2 separate regions of the Homo sapiens genome follow, and region 2 is linked to region 1. A link means that fine-mapping ties the variant in region 1 to the expression of a gene that starts in the linked region. Tissue or cell type: whole blood. Region 1 holds a variant in brackets; the other region holds the start of a gene. All regions are shown on one strand. Distances are between the middles of the regions.

The links. PIP is the estimated chance that this variant, and not a neighbour inherited with it, causes the effect.
Region 2: it holds the start of F7, and the variant in region 1 is fine-mapped to the expression of F7 in whole blood (TOPMed, PIP 0.99).

Annotation. Positions count from the first base shown.
Region 1 is chr13:113,172,420-113,180,521 of GRCh38, forward strand. It overlaps PCID2 (PCI domain containing 2), which reads right to left. Exons shown (of 14, transcript NM_001127202.4): 11 at 7,739-7,812; 12 at 7,498-7,623; 13 at 6,547-6,670; 14 at 5,117-5,868. The coding sequence ends at 5,779. Among named protein-coding and RNA genes, the nearest start is that of PROZ, 18 kb to the left of the region's middle. RefSeq lists an enhancer at 366-866. The variant G/C (reference allele first, on the strand shown) is at 4,170.
Region 2 is chr13:113,101,882-113,109,983 of GRCh38, forward strand. F7 (coagulation factor VII) reads left to right here and starts at 3,910. Exons shown (of 8, transcript NM_019616.4): 1 at 3,910-4,024. The coding sequence starts at 3,961.

The DNA.
Region 1 (8,102 bases):
TCCAGTGTTCCCTGTGCTCAGGGAATAGCCACCCCAGCCTGCACACTGGTGAGTGTGTTCTGGTGCAGAAGCGACAACAATCTCCGGTTACAGCAGAAAGTGACCTCCTCTGTTGGTTTACCAATTGCCACTGTGACTGAGGACCATGGCTCAGTGCAGAAGCAGCCACTAGAAGCAGGTTGGCAATGGAGGAGAATGACCCTGTGGGTATCCCAGAGAGGCAGCATTAGAGGAAAGGGCCAGAGAGCACAAGAGAGGCTGAGGAGGCACGCCGGCGTCTCACGGGGTTGTGCACCCGCCCTTCTCTGGGAGGGTTCCCACGGAAGGTTCCGGGGCCCGAAGTCAGGGCTGAGCACTGAGACCCAGCTCTCTGCTCGTCCCACCAGGTGGCTCTTGGACAACTGTTCCACCTCTTCATGCCTCAGGGTCGCCCAGGGTAGAATCCCAGCACCTCACCAATGGGCTGATGGGCAGCTAGGGCAACGCCCAGCACTGTTGTGGCTGGAGTGTGTGTCCCTTCAAAACTCCAAAATTGGAACTTACCCCAAGATGATGATATGGGGAGGTGGGGCCCTTGGGAGGTGACTAGGCCATGAGGGCTCTGCCAGCCCCTTCCATCTCTTCTCCCATACGAGGACACTGCAGTGAGGTGCTACCCTGGAGACAGAGAGCCCTCAGCAGACACCAAATCTGCCGGCACCCAGATCTTGAACTTCCCAGCCCCCAGATCTGTGAGAAATGAGTTTCTGTTATCACCCAGTCCATGGTATTTTGTAGAACAGACCAGGACAGCACGTGCTGAATCACAGTAAACACCTGCTGTCATGAAGGCTGCAGCTGCAATGCAAGTACCAAAGACAGAGCTGCAGTCCAGCCCCCAGTGAAACGTCCTTGGAGACTGGAGCTCCTAGCAGGGTCTGAATTTGCACTGAAATGGACAGAAATGGCATAAATGTTCACATTTTAACTCTTAGTTAAGGAAGGGGCACAGCTGCTTCTCCACCAGTGTCCTTGAGTGACACAGAGCAGAGCATCGTTGAAGAGCAGAGAGGACTTTTAAAAAGAGGAATTAAAAATGTAGGTGGACAAATATTCTCTTGAGTTGAGAACAATTTACACATAACTTGGGTTTTTAAGCCTTACTGTTCTTCAGCACACTCTCTTTCATTTACGCTTTAACCCCAGAATTAAACTTTTCTCCAACCTGTAGATGAAATGGCCCATTTCTCTGAAAGGTCCTTGGCAAAAAGCAACACTGTAATTTAAGGCAAATTAATGGGGAGGGCAGTTTAAAATTCACTAGGGTGAATTTTAAAGTCTTAGTGAAGTTTGGTTGTATTATTCTCAAACTACAATAAGGTAAGTAAGTCACTGCTTTAAATGCCTACTAATGATTTTAAAATCAGCTAATGAACATGGCAGGCTTTCTGTACATAATGCTGCAGAAATGTCTGCAATCTTGCTTCTGGTACTTCTATTACAAATTTGGATTTACTAGAGTGGAAGCCCTGCTTGAAAACTATTCCAGTCCAGGCGCAGTAGCTCACGCCCGTAATCCCAGCACTTTGGGAGGCTGAGGCGGGCGGATCACGAGGTCAGGAGTTCGAGACCAGCCTGACCAACATGGTGAAACTCCATCTCTACTAAAAATACAAAAAAAAAAAAAATCTTTGCCAAGCGTGGTGGCTCACGCCTGTAATCCCAGCTACTGAGGAGGCTGAGGCAGGAGAATCACTTGAACCCGGGAGGCAGAGGTTGCAGTAAACCGAGATCATGCCACTGCACTCCAGCCTGGGCAACAGAGCGAGACTCCATCTCAAAAAAAAAAAAAAACCTACTTCAAACACAGCTGGGCAGAGGCAAAGCATATGAAGACCCTCCCTCCGTAATGGTGAAATCTGTGAAATCAGGAACAATCAGAGAAAGCTACAGGCCCAGACTGTCAGCAGAGACATGAGGGGCCTTCAAAATGAAGTAACTACTCTACTGGCATTTAATGACATGCTTAGAAACTACACCATAAACAAATCTAACAAAACAGTAAAACTCAAGAAAAGGGAAGCTAGCTATGATGACTGTTTTTCTTGTTTTTTGAGACAGGGTCTCTGTCTGCCACCCAAGGCTGGAGTGCAGGGCACGATCCTAGCTCATAGTGGGCTCAACTTCCTGGGCTCAATTGACCCTCCCACCTCAGCCTCCTGACTACAGGTGTGGACCACCATGCCCAGCTAATTTTTGTATTTTCTGCAGAGATGGATTTTGCCATATTGCCCAGGCTGGTCTCGAACTCCAGGGCTCAAGCAATCTACTGGCCTCAGCCTCCCAAAGTGCTGGTATCATAAATGTGAGCCACCACGTCCAGCCTGTGATGATGTTTTAAAAGGGCCAAACTAGTTCACACTTGGGCAGAGATTATTAAGTCCAATATTTGAATCCATGCAAACACACTGATACATGCCCATGTGTACGCCCGTGGACTTGAATGCTGCCATGCTGGACACAGGCCTTGACTTTGCGTCTCCACCCAAATTCCATCTTGAATTGTAATCCCCACGTGTGGAGAAGTGATTGGATCACGGGGGCGGCTCCCCCACGCTGTTCTCGTGACAGTGAGGGCGTCTAACGAGAGCTGATGGTTTTAAAAGTGGCAGTTTTGCTCATGCTCACTTCCCCTTCCGCCATGATTGTAAGTTTCCTGAGGTCCCCCGAGTCATGTGGAACTGTGAGTCCATTAAACCTCTTTCCTTTACATATTACCCAGTCTCGGGCAGTTCTTTATAGCAGCGTGAGAACGAACTGACAGAGGCCTGAACACCAAGAGGTAAACGTAAGGACACCTACACTGAGGTTGTTTCTTTCATCGCTAAGAATAACCATCCAATTACCTTAAAGTATCAATCCTTGACTTTAGGTGTCACTATGGACGGTTCAATACGTTACCCAGAAATGTTGACAAACCTGAGCTTTCCACCGCTATTACATCCAGAATGAAATTCAGGTATGCTGGCAGAAATTCCAATATTCAAATTACTGCAAGAAAATCATTTAAGTCAAAAGTTGAAGGATGTTCAAGGCCCATGCAGAGCAGCAGGGAAGATCAGATTTCCGTACCCAACACTGCAAGAGAACGGGGCCCCACTGGACACATGGGTAGCTAGAAAACAGATGCGCGCCCAAAGCCTCCGCCGGCATGAGTTTGCTCCGTGTCTGCCCCACAGGACATAGGAGGCACTTGTCACGACTGCCAGCGCTGAGGACCTTGCTGCTGCTGGGGAGCAGCTACGTAGGTCAAGAGGATCCTTGGCATGAACTCCACAGGCACAGGCGCTTGCCTTCGTGCATTCATCTCTCGCGTGTACGTGTGGCAGTCCACGGCTGGAATCCGGGTGTGACTTAGGAGAGCAGGGCATAAAAGAGATCTGGCTTCCCTGGCTCTACTGGGATCTGCGCTCCCAGAATCCAGCTCCCTACGTGTGGAGAGAAACAGGGGAGCCCACCCACAGCCCTGCTGAGCTCCAGGTGAGAGCCCGGGCCAATACACGGGAATGAGTCACCTTCAAAGAGGCCCATTCGGGCCCCAGAAGAGCCCACAAGCTTCCCCGCCCAGCCCGGAAGAAACTGCAGACCTGCAGATGTAGGAGCGAGCTAAGGAGTGCTGCTGAAGCCCTGGGGCAGCTCCTGCATCCAGGGGAACCTGAGGAAGGAGCCACACAAAGTGAGTCCTGCGCCGCGCGGCCCGGAGAGAGAGAAAGAGGGATTCACACTTTGTAGAATAGCCTCTCCTTGAACAAGCAGCTTTCAAATGCAGTAACTTTGCAAAGATGAGCTCTTATAGTTTGTGTTCTTCTTTAGTAAATTTTTTATAAACGGGGAAATGTGCATAGTCTGAAAAATGGCAGTGCTGGGGACTAAACTGTGTCCCCCAAATTTCTTACATTGAAGTCCTAGCCCCAGTGTGACTGTATCTGGAGGTAAGGTCTTCAGGGGGTAACTAAGGCTAAATGTGGTCATAAGGGTGAGGTCCTAACCCAACAGAACTGTGGCCTTATAAGAGGAAGAGAGCCGGGTGTGGTGGCACATGCCTGTCACCCCAGCACTTTGGGAGGCCGAGGTGGGGGAATTGCTTTAGCCCAGGCGTTCCAGACCAGCCTGTGCAATATTAGCAAGAC[G/C]CTGTCTCTACAAAAAATAAAAAAATTAGTTGGGTGTGGTGGCATGCACCTGTGCTCCCAGCTACTTGGGAGGCTGAGGAGGGAAGATCACTTGAGTCTCGGAGGTCGAGGCTGCAGTAAGCACTGACTGCACTGCCGCACTCCAGCCTGGGTGACAGAGTGAGGTCCTGTCTCAAAAAAGGAGGGAGAGAGTCATCTCTATCTGTACCATCTCTAGCACAGCAAGAATACCACCTTATTCTTAAGTGTGCAACTCAGAAGAGAGCCCTCCCCAGAAGCCGACCGTGCTGGCAACCCCATCTCAGTCAGACCTCCAGCCTCTAGAACTGTGAGGAAATACATTCCTGTTGCTTAAGCTGCCTGTGGTATTCTGTGATGGCAGCCCCAACAGCCCAATGTGAGTGGCCCAACTTAGCGACTGTCAACCTCGCCGTGGTGCCGAAGGGACGCGCTCAGGGGCAGCCATGCCTCAGCGTCCACGCAGCCCTTCAGTTTCCACTCTCAGTGTAGCACTCGGTAAGCTACACGAGGTATTTACACTTTTATTTTTATTTATTTATTTTTTTGAGACAGAGTTTCGCTCTTGTTGCCCAGGCTGGAGTGCAATGGCATGATCTCGGCTCACTGCAACCTTTGCCTCCCGGGTTCAAGCGATTCTCCTGCCTCAGCCTCCTGAGTAGCTGGAATTACAGGTATGCGCCACCACGCCCGGCTAATTTTGTATTTTTAGTAGAGACGGGGTTTCTCCATGTTGGTCAGGCTGGTCTCCAACTCTCAATCTCAGGTGATCTGCCTGCCTTGGCCTCTGAAAGTGCTGGGATTACAGGCGTGAGCCACCACGCCCGGCATCTACACTTTATTATAAAATAAAATCGGCTTTGTGTTTGATTTTGCCTAAGAGTGGAGGCTTCTGAGTATGTTAAGGAAGGCTAGAGTGAGCCATAATGTTTAGTAGCAGGTGTATTAAATGTATTTTCAATTTAAGATGGTTTTTTAAAAGAAATTTTTTTTTAACCAACAAAGCAAAGGCAAATAAAATAAGTTTATTGGGATGTAACCCTATCATAAATTGAGGAGCATCCATACAGGCAAGCTATAAAATCTGGAAAATTTAAATCAAATTAAATTCTGCTTTTAAAAAGGTGCCTTAAGTTAACCAAGCATTTTGATAACACATTCAAATTTAATATATAAAAATAGATGTATCCTGGAAGATATAATGAAGAACATGCCATGTGTATAAATTCAGAATACGCTTTTTACACAAAGAACTACAAAAAGTTACAAAGACAGCCTTCAGGAACCACACTTAGGAAAAGTGAGCCGAGCAGCCTTCACGCAAAGCCTCCTTCAAAGAAGTCTCACAAAGACTCCAGAACCAGCCGAGTCTGTGAAAAAGGAATTCCAGGTTTTCATCAGGCTGAAATTAGTTACAAATGAAGGAGATTAACTCGGGTGTGCTGAAAATCTCAGCCTCAGCATCCCTGGGAAAAGCGCCTCCAAGAGTTCCGGCTTCAGGGAGCCTTGTTGCAGTACCGGACCGGTCTCATCAGCACAACCAAAGTGGAAAGAAACAACTGCTCACCCGTCCTCGGGGCTCCGTGTACTTTCAACACACCGTGGACAGGGGAGGAAATGGGTTCTGCTTGCTGACCACCAGCTTCTGATGCTGATGCGATATGTAGCCTTTGACGTGTCCCTGCGGGGCAGAAAGGGAGGAATGCGTTTACATTTTTGGATCTGAGTCATGTCAAAGATGCTGGGTGATCTAATTAATTTGGCATTAGCATTCTTCCCCAAGAGCGGCACAGTTCAGTTCAGCGGGAAGACAATGAGTAAAAATAAATACAATCAACCCTCTATATCCACGGTGGGTTTCATATCCATGAATCTAACCAACTGTGGACTGAAAATATTTGGGGAAAAAAAATGCATCTGTAATGAACACGTACAGACGCTCTTCCCTTGCCGTGATTCCCTAAACAATACAGTACAACAGCTATCTACAGTGCACTGAGTATTTTAAGTAACCTAGAGATAATTTAAAGTATACAGGAGGACGTGCATAGCTCATATGCAAATACTACGTCCTATCAGTGACTGAAGCACCTGTGGATTTTGGTATCCGAGGGGGGTTGGAGAATCGACAGATACCGAGGGATGTACCGCCAGTAAAGAATATGCAAACATACAAGAGTATCCGTCCCCTCATGCTCCTAAGGCCCTGGTGAATGGTATTTCCTGGGCTAAAATTAGTTCTATCAAAAAAAAAGCAGAAGGCCTTTTAACAATTTTAACACCACCACACTGAAGCTTCAAATTCTGGGCTGAATCTTGCTGTGAGTAGCTGCTTAAATTAAAACCAGGACTCACACACCATGTATATCAAGTTAGCCAGAATACACTGAACTTCGTCAATGTCCACGTCCTCCACCTGCATGAACTTCAAGGCAACCAGAAAAGCATCCAGAGACAGCTGGTGTGTTTTCAGTAACAAATACCTGGAAGAGGGGAGGAGAAGGGCACTGTGGTTACCGACAGGATGCAATACTCCACAGCCAAGAAAAGGCACCTCTTAATAAGCCGGTGTTCTAAAGGAGTAAAAAAATTCCCACCTATTAGATAAACTCTAAACTACACTCTCAGAGCTATTAAATCTAATTTGACTTTTCAATCTTTAAAAAGTCACTAGTACAAACACAATTTTTAATTATTTTCTAAGTATTTCATTAAGGTTCGGTTTTTTTTTTCACATTTTAATCTCCCTGAAATCAGGAAGCACCTGACAATGGGCTGTGTCTCACAGACTCAGCGAAATAGGGTCCCTACTGTTTGTGACGTGCTACCCACAGCTCTATACAAAGTTGGCCTTTGCCTGAAGTTTACACAACTGAGATCCTGCTGGGACGAGGCCTCAGAAGACGTGTGAGGAAAGGAATGACGATCTCTGCATCTGCCTTTGTGACAGGCAGAAGTGGCTGGGAGGGCTACTTGGTCAGCACTAAGGGAGGGGAGTGAGTGGCGAGTCCTGTGTGCTCTGATGAAATGTGGTACCGCGGCTCTCAGGGCTGATGTTCTCAAGTTGTCTTCTCACATAGAACCTGCTTACCTCCCCCACAAGTCCAGGCACAGCTTGTGCTACTCACGTGTCTCGCGCAGGGTCCCCAGGAGGCAGTGGGCGGAGGCTTCATTTTATCCCACACAATGGAAGGAAGATAACGACCCCACCCACACGGTGGCCTTCTCTCTTAGACTGCAACAGCCCTGGATGTCTGACTGCTCTGCCGAGAGCCACACTGGGAGCCCAATGTGCCGGGGAAATGCTTACACTTTCTTAAAGAGGTTCCTGTAGGTGATGATCTTCAGCTTCTCCAGGATGAGGAAGATTCCGCAGCGAATGAAGAAGGCCTCGTGCTTCGCCAGCGCCTCGTGCAGCAGCAGCAGGTTGCCCTCGCTGGTGAGGGGGGAGGCGCGTCAGAAGGAGGGTGAGTTTCTCACAGAGCGTGCACGTCAACTCTCATCAGGCTTGCATTTTTAAAACCCCAAACAGGAAGGATGGCATACTCTACCTCACAGCTCTGGTTACTTCCGCAAACTGCATCAGGTGATACTTTTTCAGGAGCTCCACAGTGGGCATGTGACCCTAAGAGTCAATTTTCCAGAATGAAAATGCTTTCATTTTTGACAAAATTGTCCTTGATAAATATTCATATCAAGGAATTAAGTTTTAAGAAAATTGCAACCTGAGTTTCTTAGAATGTCCATGGATTAAACACATCATAGTACACTAGGAAAACAACACAGGTCTAGAAATCAGAACACCTGGGTACAACACACTTTTGTCATTCCATGACACGTGACCTTGATCTTGACCTTCTCACATTTCTTCGAATTTCTATAACAGGAGAGTGATAACTGAAGAAATGCTAGTAT
Region 2 (8,102 bases), 71 kb before region 1:
GGGGGAGAGAGGCTAAACTGGTCGAGCAGAATTCAGATTCCCAGGCAGGGATGTGTGCAGGGACCTGGCTTGTCCTGGGGCTGGTCAATCTTTGGCACGGAATGGCCTCTTCAGGAACGGGTGTTATTGGGACAGCTGCCTTTCCATGTGGATGATGGCATAAAAGTATAGCCCCCCCAAACTTAAGATTAAAACATTATTATGAGGAAACAGAATATTCTTATTGCCTAGGGCAAGGATAGATTTCTTACAAAAGACAAGCTACACTTTAAGAGATGGACAAAAAGATAAGATGGACAATCTGAGCACATCCCATGGTGAATTTCTCTCCACGCTAAGACCCCAGACAAGGGTGAAAAGCAGGACCAAGGCCCAGAGAAGAAAAATTCTGCTCAAAATCATAACTGTTCAACCTTGCATACATTCTCTCTCTTAAACTGAAAGTTAGCATCCTACAGCACTGGTGTGACACCCGGCAGGCCCGAGGGCTCAGCTGCCTCCAGCTGTGGCCCCAAGAAGGCAAAGCACCCGGGTGGGGTGGAGGGAGCAGCCCCGTGCTCTACTGGCTGACAGTGGTGCCCAGGCCCAGCTCCCTTCTCTGCACAGACAGCAGAGTTCCGCTTAGCACAGGCTTTTCCTCGCCAGTGCACACACTGTCAGCCATTGGAACTGGCCTGCAAGACAGCTTGCTGTGGCGGCTTTGCAGGCACAGGGCACACAGGCATCCGTGCACGCAGCTCCTCTGTCCTCCCATGCCCTGCACCCTCCGTCACAAGGAAACCCTTGCTTCTAGGATTGCACCAAATAGGATTTGGAACCAATTGGTGCCCAAGCTCAAATCCTGTTAGTGGCTGCCTGTTTCCCTGGCATACATGCGTCCTGCCGAGATGCATTTGGCACCAGGTGGGATGTGCTCACTGGTTCCCAAAACGAGAACACATAGCAGTTTCCCTGGATGTTTGTTCAATACTATTCCCGGGACCTGCCCGTAGATTCCAATTCCTTATGGGTGTGGAAGAGCCTGGAAATCACGTGTGTGTAGGTGTGTGGCATGTGTATAGGGGTGTGTTTATGTGGTGTGACTTTGGGGTATGAGTGTGGCATGTGTACGGTGTGTGTGAGTGTGGTATGTGTATGGCGTGAGTTTGGGTTGTGCGAGCGTGGTTCTCATGTACGAGTGTGAGCATGGAGATTCTTTGGTAGGGAAGGAGTCAGGGTCTCCCTCTGTCGCCCAGGCTTGAGTGCAGTGGCACAATCTCAGCTCATTGCAACCTCTGCCTCCCGGGTTCTCTGTCTCTGGGACCACAGGCATGAACCACCAAGCCCAGCTAATTTTTTTATTTTTTGTCTAGCTTTGGTCTTGCTATGTTGCCCAGGTTGGTCTGGAACTCCTTTCCTCAAGCGATCCTCAGTCCTCAGCCTCCCAAAGTGCTGGGATTACAGGCATGAGCCACCACCCAAGAGATTCTGATGTCACAGACATCTGACTCACACACTCCCTGGACAGCTCACGTGTGCCCACCACCACAGTCAGGGATGGCTGCAGATGAACAAGGTGCTGACGTGGTTTCTGTAGCCCCCAAACAAGCAACTTGCCTTGAGATGACAACCAAAGTTTTCCTGTGTCCTCCACACTCAAGAGTGACTGTGAGGCGGAGGGGCCCAGCCCTTCTTGCAGGCGGGAATGAGTGGATGGGTGGATCAACAGAGGCTGCCACAGGAGAGAGGGAGGCCTGGCCTGGGAACAGAGCTGTGACCGTGCCCTTCCCCAGGGTAGGGGCTGAAGGACCCTCCCATCCTAGTGACAGGGCCACAGCATGTCCAAGGAGGCCCCAGAGGAGGTCCCGGGAGTCCTGGGAGAGCCTGGTTAGCCTCCCTGAAGGGAGGAAGTGGGGTTTTGTGAGAGGGATGGTGCAGCAGCCCCCACACCTGCTACTCCGTGTGGCCGGGTCCAGCCCCAGGCAAGGTTCCAGGCATGCCCCTGGGACAGACGTGGGAGGGAGACCAGCAGGCAGGTCCCCCTCAGGGAGGTATGGAGCGGGTCCCCGGGGCCAGGTGGAGCCCCTCACACCTGTGTCCTCAAGGACCCACACCAGGACAATGGCCATAGGCGGGCACCTGCAGCCGCCCTGGCCAGCAGTGAGACGGGCAGAGAGCCCAGCCAGATAGCCCGGTTCCTGCCCCCTCCCGCCTGCCCGCACAGAGAGGGCTGCATGCAGGTGAGGGTCCATCACCTGAAGAGCTTCACCAGCCCCGAGGCCATGAGCCACTGAATCTCTCAGGGGGTTTTGGCGCTTGAGGTTCCCCAGGTCATTCTGCTGCCCAGAGAGGGTTGAGGACCTCTGACCTGGAGCCCCAAAGGGGAAGGGTACCCTAAGACCAGCCAGCCATCTACTCTCAGGTGGGAAAGGGGTAGGGTTTAGATATGGCCCCCTCCCCTCCACGTCCTGAAATTACCTTGGGCTGTGCTGGCCGAGAGCCGCGGGGACCAGATTTGAGCTGGACGTGAGCTTTATTCCAGACGGAGCAGCTACTTTGTAAGCGATCTCCCTGGGATCGATATCATGGAGGGGCACAGATGGGCTTCAGCTGTGCTGGGTGGAAGAGAAAACATGCCCTGTCGGCCCCTCAGCAAGTGCTCTGCTCTCTGGACTGAGATGCAGGTCAGCAGCAAGCAGGGAGGCTTTGGGGGTGCTGGGGGCTGCTTTGAAAGGCACCCCTGAGCTAAGACTTGGCTGTTGGGAAGGAATCACCTCCCTCCCTCCAGCCGTAAAAAGAACTGGACATCAGCTTCCAAAGAAGTCATCAGCAATGCAACTGTTCACATGGAGGATACTCCCTGCTTGAGGGGTCAGACAGGCCTGCTGGGCAACCCAGGAGGCTTGGATGACCGTCTACCCCAGTGTTTTTGGGATGGAAAGTTCCACATTCTGAGAACCCTCAGTCCCTGGGCAACCTGGGGTGGTTAGTCACCACAGCTTGTGGCTTGGGCCCATGACAGCAGGTAGAAATGACGTGGACTGCCGCCAGCCGGGCACAGTGGCTCACGCCTGTAATCCCAGCACTTTGGGAGGCTGAGGCATGTGGATCACTTGAGGTCAGGAGTTCGAAACCAGCCTGGTCAACACGGTGAAACCCCATCTCTGCTAAAAAAAAAAAATATATATATATAAATTAGCCAGGCATGGTGACGTGCACCTGTGGTCCCAGCTACTCAGGAGGCTGAGGCACAAGAATCACTTGAACCCGGGAGGTGGAGGTTGCAGTGAGATTGCACCAGTGCACTCTCCAGCCTGGCAACAGAGCAAGACTCTGTCTCAAACAAACAAAACAAAACAAACAAAAAGACGTAAGATGTGGACCGCTGGAGAATGGGGGTGCTGCCTGCAGTCAAAACGGAGTGGGGGTGCCCAGCTCAGGGCCAGAATGATCCTATTCCCGGCACTTCTCAGTGAGGCTCTGTGGCTCACCTAAGAAACCAGCCTCCCTTGCAGGCAACGGCCTAGCTGGCCTGGTCTGGAGGCTCTCTTCAAATATTTACATCCACACCCAAGATACAGTCTTGAGATTTGACTCGCATGATTGCTATGGGACAAGTTTTCATCTGCAGTTTAAATCTGTTTCCCAACTTACATTAGGGGTTTGGAATTCTAGATCGTATTTGAAGTGTTGGTGCCACACACACCTTAACACCTGCACGCTGGCAACAAAACCGTCCGCTCTGCAGCACAGCTGGGGTCACCTGACCTTTCTCCTGTCCCCCCCACTTGAGCTCAGTGGCTGGGCAGCAGGGGATGCATGGCCACTGGCCGGCCAGGTGCAGCTCTCAGCTGGGGTGTTCAGAGGACGCCTGTGTCCTCCCCTCCCCCATCCCTCTGTCACCCTTGGAGGCAGAGAACTTTGCCCGTCAGTCCCATGGGGAATGTCAACAGGCAGGGGCAGCACTGCAGAGATTTCATCATGGTCTCCCAGGCCCTCAGGCTCCTCTGCCTTCTGCTTGGGCTTCAGGGCTGCCTGGCTGCAGGTGCGTCCGGGGAGGTTTTCTCCATAAACTTGGTGGAAGGGCAGTGGGCAAATCCAGGAGCCAGCCCGGGCTTCCCAAACCCCGCCCTTGCTCCGGACACCCCCATCCACCAGGAGGGTTTTCTGGCGGCTCCTGTTCAATTTCTTTCCTTCTAGAAACCAGCATCCAGGCACAGGAGGGGAGGCCCTTCTTGGTGGCCCAGGCTTTGGCGGGATTATTTTTCAAAGAACTTTAGGAGTGGGTGGTGCTTTCCTGGCCCCCATGGGCCCCTGCCTGTGAGGTCGGACAAGCGCAGGGAGTCTGGGGCCTCTCAGAGTGCAGGAAGTGCGCACAGGGTGCTCCCAGGCTGGGGAGCACAGGTAGGGGACGGTGCGTGGGGGATGGCGCCTGGGGCATGGGGGATGGGGTGTGGGAAACGGCATGTGGGGCGTAGGGGATGGGGTGTGGAGGATCGGGGGTGGGGATGGCGTGTGGGGTGTGGGGGATGGGCCGTGGGGGGGTGGGGCCTGGGAAACAGCATGTGGGGCATGGGGTGTGGGGGTGAGGTGTGGGAAAGTGTGTGGGGTGTGGGGGATGGGGCATGGAAAGGGCGTGTGGGGTGCAGGGGATGGGGCATGGAGGTGTGGGGGATGGGGTGTGTGGGGTGTCGGGGATGGGGCATGTGGGGTGTGGGGGATGGGGCATGGAAAGGGCGTGTGGGGTGCAGAGGATGGGGCATGGGGGGGTGGGGATGGCGAGTGGGGCTGGGGCCTGGGAATGGTGAGTGGGGCATGGGGATGGCGAGTAGGGGGTGTGGCGTGAGGATGGCTAGTGGGGCGTGGGGATGGCGTGTGGGGATGGCGAGTGGGGGGTGGGCTGTGAGGGACAGTGCCTGGGATGTGGGGCTGCAGCCCTAGCTCACAGCATGGCCTTATGACCCCGGCCACCTTCCTGCCCCAGGCGGGGTCGCTAAGGCCTCAGGAGGAGAAACACGGGACATGCCGTGGAAGCCGGGGCCTCACAGAGGTGAGCAGGGACTGCCACTGGTTTTGTCCTGGGGCCCAGTGGGGGCCAACATCACCTCCTTCCCCTCCCATGGCAAAGAGCCAGCCCGCGGGGTGGCTACTGCAGTGCCCCCCAAGGAGGGTGTTCCCTGCTCGAGAGGAAGTGACCGCTCCAGCTTGGCCTTCCCTGGGACTGGGGTGCAGGCGATTTTATCTTCTTTGCTCCATTCTGTTCCTTCCAGATAATCGTGTGTTCTTCATCAGGTTTTCCTCAGTTCTTGAGAGCTTTTCTGATGCAAATCTGCTTTCACCCCAGGGCGGTCACCGGCTCTGCTCACACCAGCCTCCAAGGGTGTGGGTGTCCCGGGAGTGTGGGTGTCCCGGGGGCGTGGGTGTCCCAGGAGTGTGGGTGTCCCGGGGGCGTGGGTGTCCCGGGAGTGTGGGTGTCCCGGGGGCGTGGGTGTCCCGGGAGTGTGGGTGTCCCGGAGGCGAGGGTGTCCCGGGAGTGTGGGTGTCCCGGGGGAGTGGGTGTCCCGGGAGTGTGGGTGTCCCGGAGGCGAGGGTGTCCCGGGAGTGTGGGTGTCCCGGGGGCGTGGGTGTCCCGGGAGTGTGGGTGTCCCGGGGGAGTGGGTGTCCCGGGAGTGTGGGTGTCCCGGAGGCGAGGGTGTCCCGGGAGTGTGGGTGTCCCGGGGGAGTGGGTGTCCCGGGAGTGTGGGTGTCCCGGAGGCGAGGGTGTCCCGGGAGTGTGGGTGTCCCGGGGGCGTGGGTGTCCCGGGAGCGTGGGTGTCCCGGGGGCGTGGGTGTCCCGGGAGTGTGGGTGTCCCGGGGGCGTGGGTGTCCCGGGAGTGTGGGTGTCCCGGGGGCGTGGGTGTCCCGGGAGTGTGGGTGTCCCGGGAGTGTGGGTGTTCCGGAGGCGAGGGTGTCCCGGGAGTGTGCGTGTCCCGGGGGCGTGGGTGTCCCGGGGGCGTGGGTGTCCCGGGGGCGTGGGTGTTCCGGAGGCGAGGGTATCCCAGAAGTGTGAGTGTCCCAGGGGCGTGGGTGTCCCGGGGGTGTGGGTGTCCCGGGGGCGTGGGTGTCCCGGGAGTGTGGGTGTTCCGGAGGTGAGGGTGTCCCGGGAGTGTGGGTGTTCCGGAGGCGAGGGTGTCCCGGGAGTGTGGGTGTCCCGGGGGCGTGGGTGTCCCGGGAGTGTGGGTGTTCCGGAGGTGAGGGTGTCCCGGGAGTGTGGGTGTTCCGGAGGCGAGGGTGTCCCGGGAGTGTGGGTGTCCCAGGGGCGTGGGTGTCCCGGGAGTGTGGGTGTTCCGGAGGCGAGGGTGTCCCGGGAGTGTGGGTGTTCCGGAGGCGAGGGTGTCCCGGGAGTGTGGGTGTCCCGGGGGCGTGGGTGTCCCGGGGGTTGTGGGTGTCCCGGGAGTGTGGGTGTTCCGGAGGCGAGGGTGTCCCGGGAGTGTGGGTGTTCCGGAGGCGAGGGTGTCCCGGGAGTGTGGGTGTCCCGGGGGTGTGGGTGTCCCGGGGGTGTGGGTGTCCCGGGAGTGTGGGTGTCCCGGGGGAGTGGGTGTCCCGGGAGTGTGGGTGTTCCGGAGGCGAGGGTGTCCCAGGAGCGTGGGTGTCCCGGAGGCGAGGGTGTCCCGGGAGCGTGGGTGTCCCGGGGGCGTGGGTGTCCCGGGAGTGTGGGTGTCCCGGGGGAGTGGGTGTCCCGGGAGTGTGGGTGTCCCGGAGGCGAGGGTGTCCCAGGAGTGTGGGTGTCCCGGGGGCGTGGGTGTCCCGGGAGTGTGGGTGTTCCAGAGGCGAGGGTATCCCAGAAGTGTGAGTGTCCCGGGGGTGTGGGTGTCCCGGGGGTCGTGGGTGTCCCGGGAGTGTGGGTGTTCCAGAGGCGAGGGTGTCCCGGGAGTGTGGGTGTCCCAGGGGTGTGGGTGTCCCGGGGGCGTGGGTGTCCCGGGAGTGTGGGTGTCCCGGGGGAGTGGGTGTCCCGGGAGTGTGGGTGTTCCGGAGGCGAGGGTGTCCCGGGAGTGTGGGTGTTCCGGAGGCGAGGGTGTCCCGGGAGCGTGGGTGTCCCGGGGGCGTGGGTGTCCCGGGAGCGTGGGTGTCCCAGGGGTGTGGGTGTCCCGGGGGCGTGGGTGTCCCGGGAGTGTGGGTGTCCCGGGGGAGTGGATGTCCCGGGAGTGTGGGTGTTCCGGAGGCGAGGGTGTCCCGGGAGTGTGGGTGTTCCGGAGGCGAGGGTGTCCCGGGAGTGTGGGTGTCCCGGGGGCGTGGGTGTCCCGGGAGTGTGGGTGTCCCGGGGGCGTGGGTATCCCAGAAGTGTGAGTGTCCCAGGGGCGTGGGTGTCCGGGGGGCGTGGGTGTCCCGGGGGTGTGGGTGTCCCGGGGGTCGTGGGTGTCCCGGGAGCGTGGGTGTCGGGGACTGCAGGGACATGGGCCTCCCCTCCCACTCCTGCCGCCCAGGGCACCTCCTGTGAGGACTCGGAGTCCGTGAGTTCCCACCTCCTTGAGCCCGATTCTTTGGTGTCCCCGCCTGCATCCTCAGCCTCCTTCCAAACCAGACCAGTTCTCTAGGGGCGTCGACGTGTGAAACTGATTTTAAAGAAAACAGGCAGTGGCCTTTCTCTCGGCCCCACGTGGCCCAGTAGCGCTCACCTTCCGTCCCTTCTTCCGCGCTCAGTAACCAATTTAGGCCGCTCCTGCAGAACTCGGGCTCCTGCCCACCGGCCCACAGCGTCCACCTGAGGCCTCGTCCTCCCAGCAAAGGTCGTCCCTCCGGAACGCGCCTCCTGCGGCCTCTCCAGAGCCCCTCCCGCGCGTCCTCTCAGCCCCGCTCGCCTCCTCCCGGGGCCTCCCTCTCCCGCCTGCCCCCAGGCCCGTCTCCCCTCGCGGGCTGAGGCAGGTTCGGGCAGCACGGCCGCCCCGGGGCGGGGGTCACTCTCCACCACCGCGTGGTGCCCACAGCTCACGGCGCTCCCGGGTGACGGTCCCCTCGGCTGTAGGGCGTCCTGAAGAGCGGCCTGCTCGGAGCTGAGCGCACGGGGTTGCCTCGCCCTGGGCGTCTCTGGCCCTCACCAGCCCCGTCTTCCCATGGGCAAAACGGCGGTCCTGTTTGTCCACAAG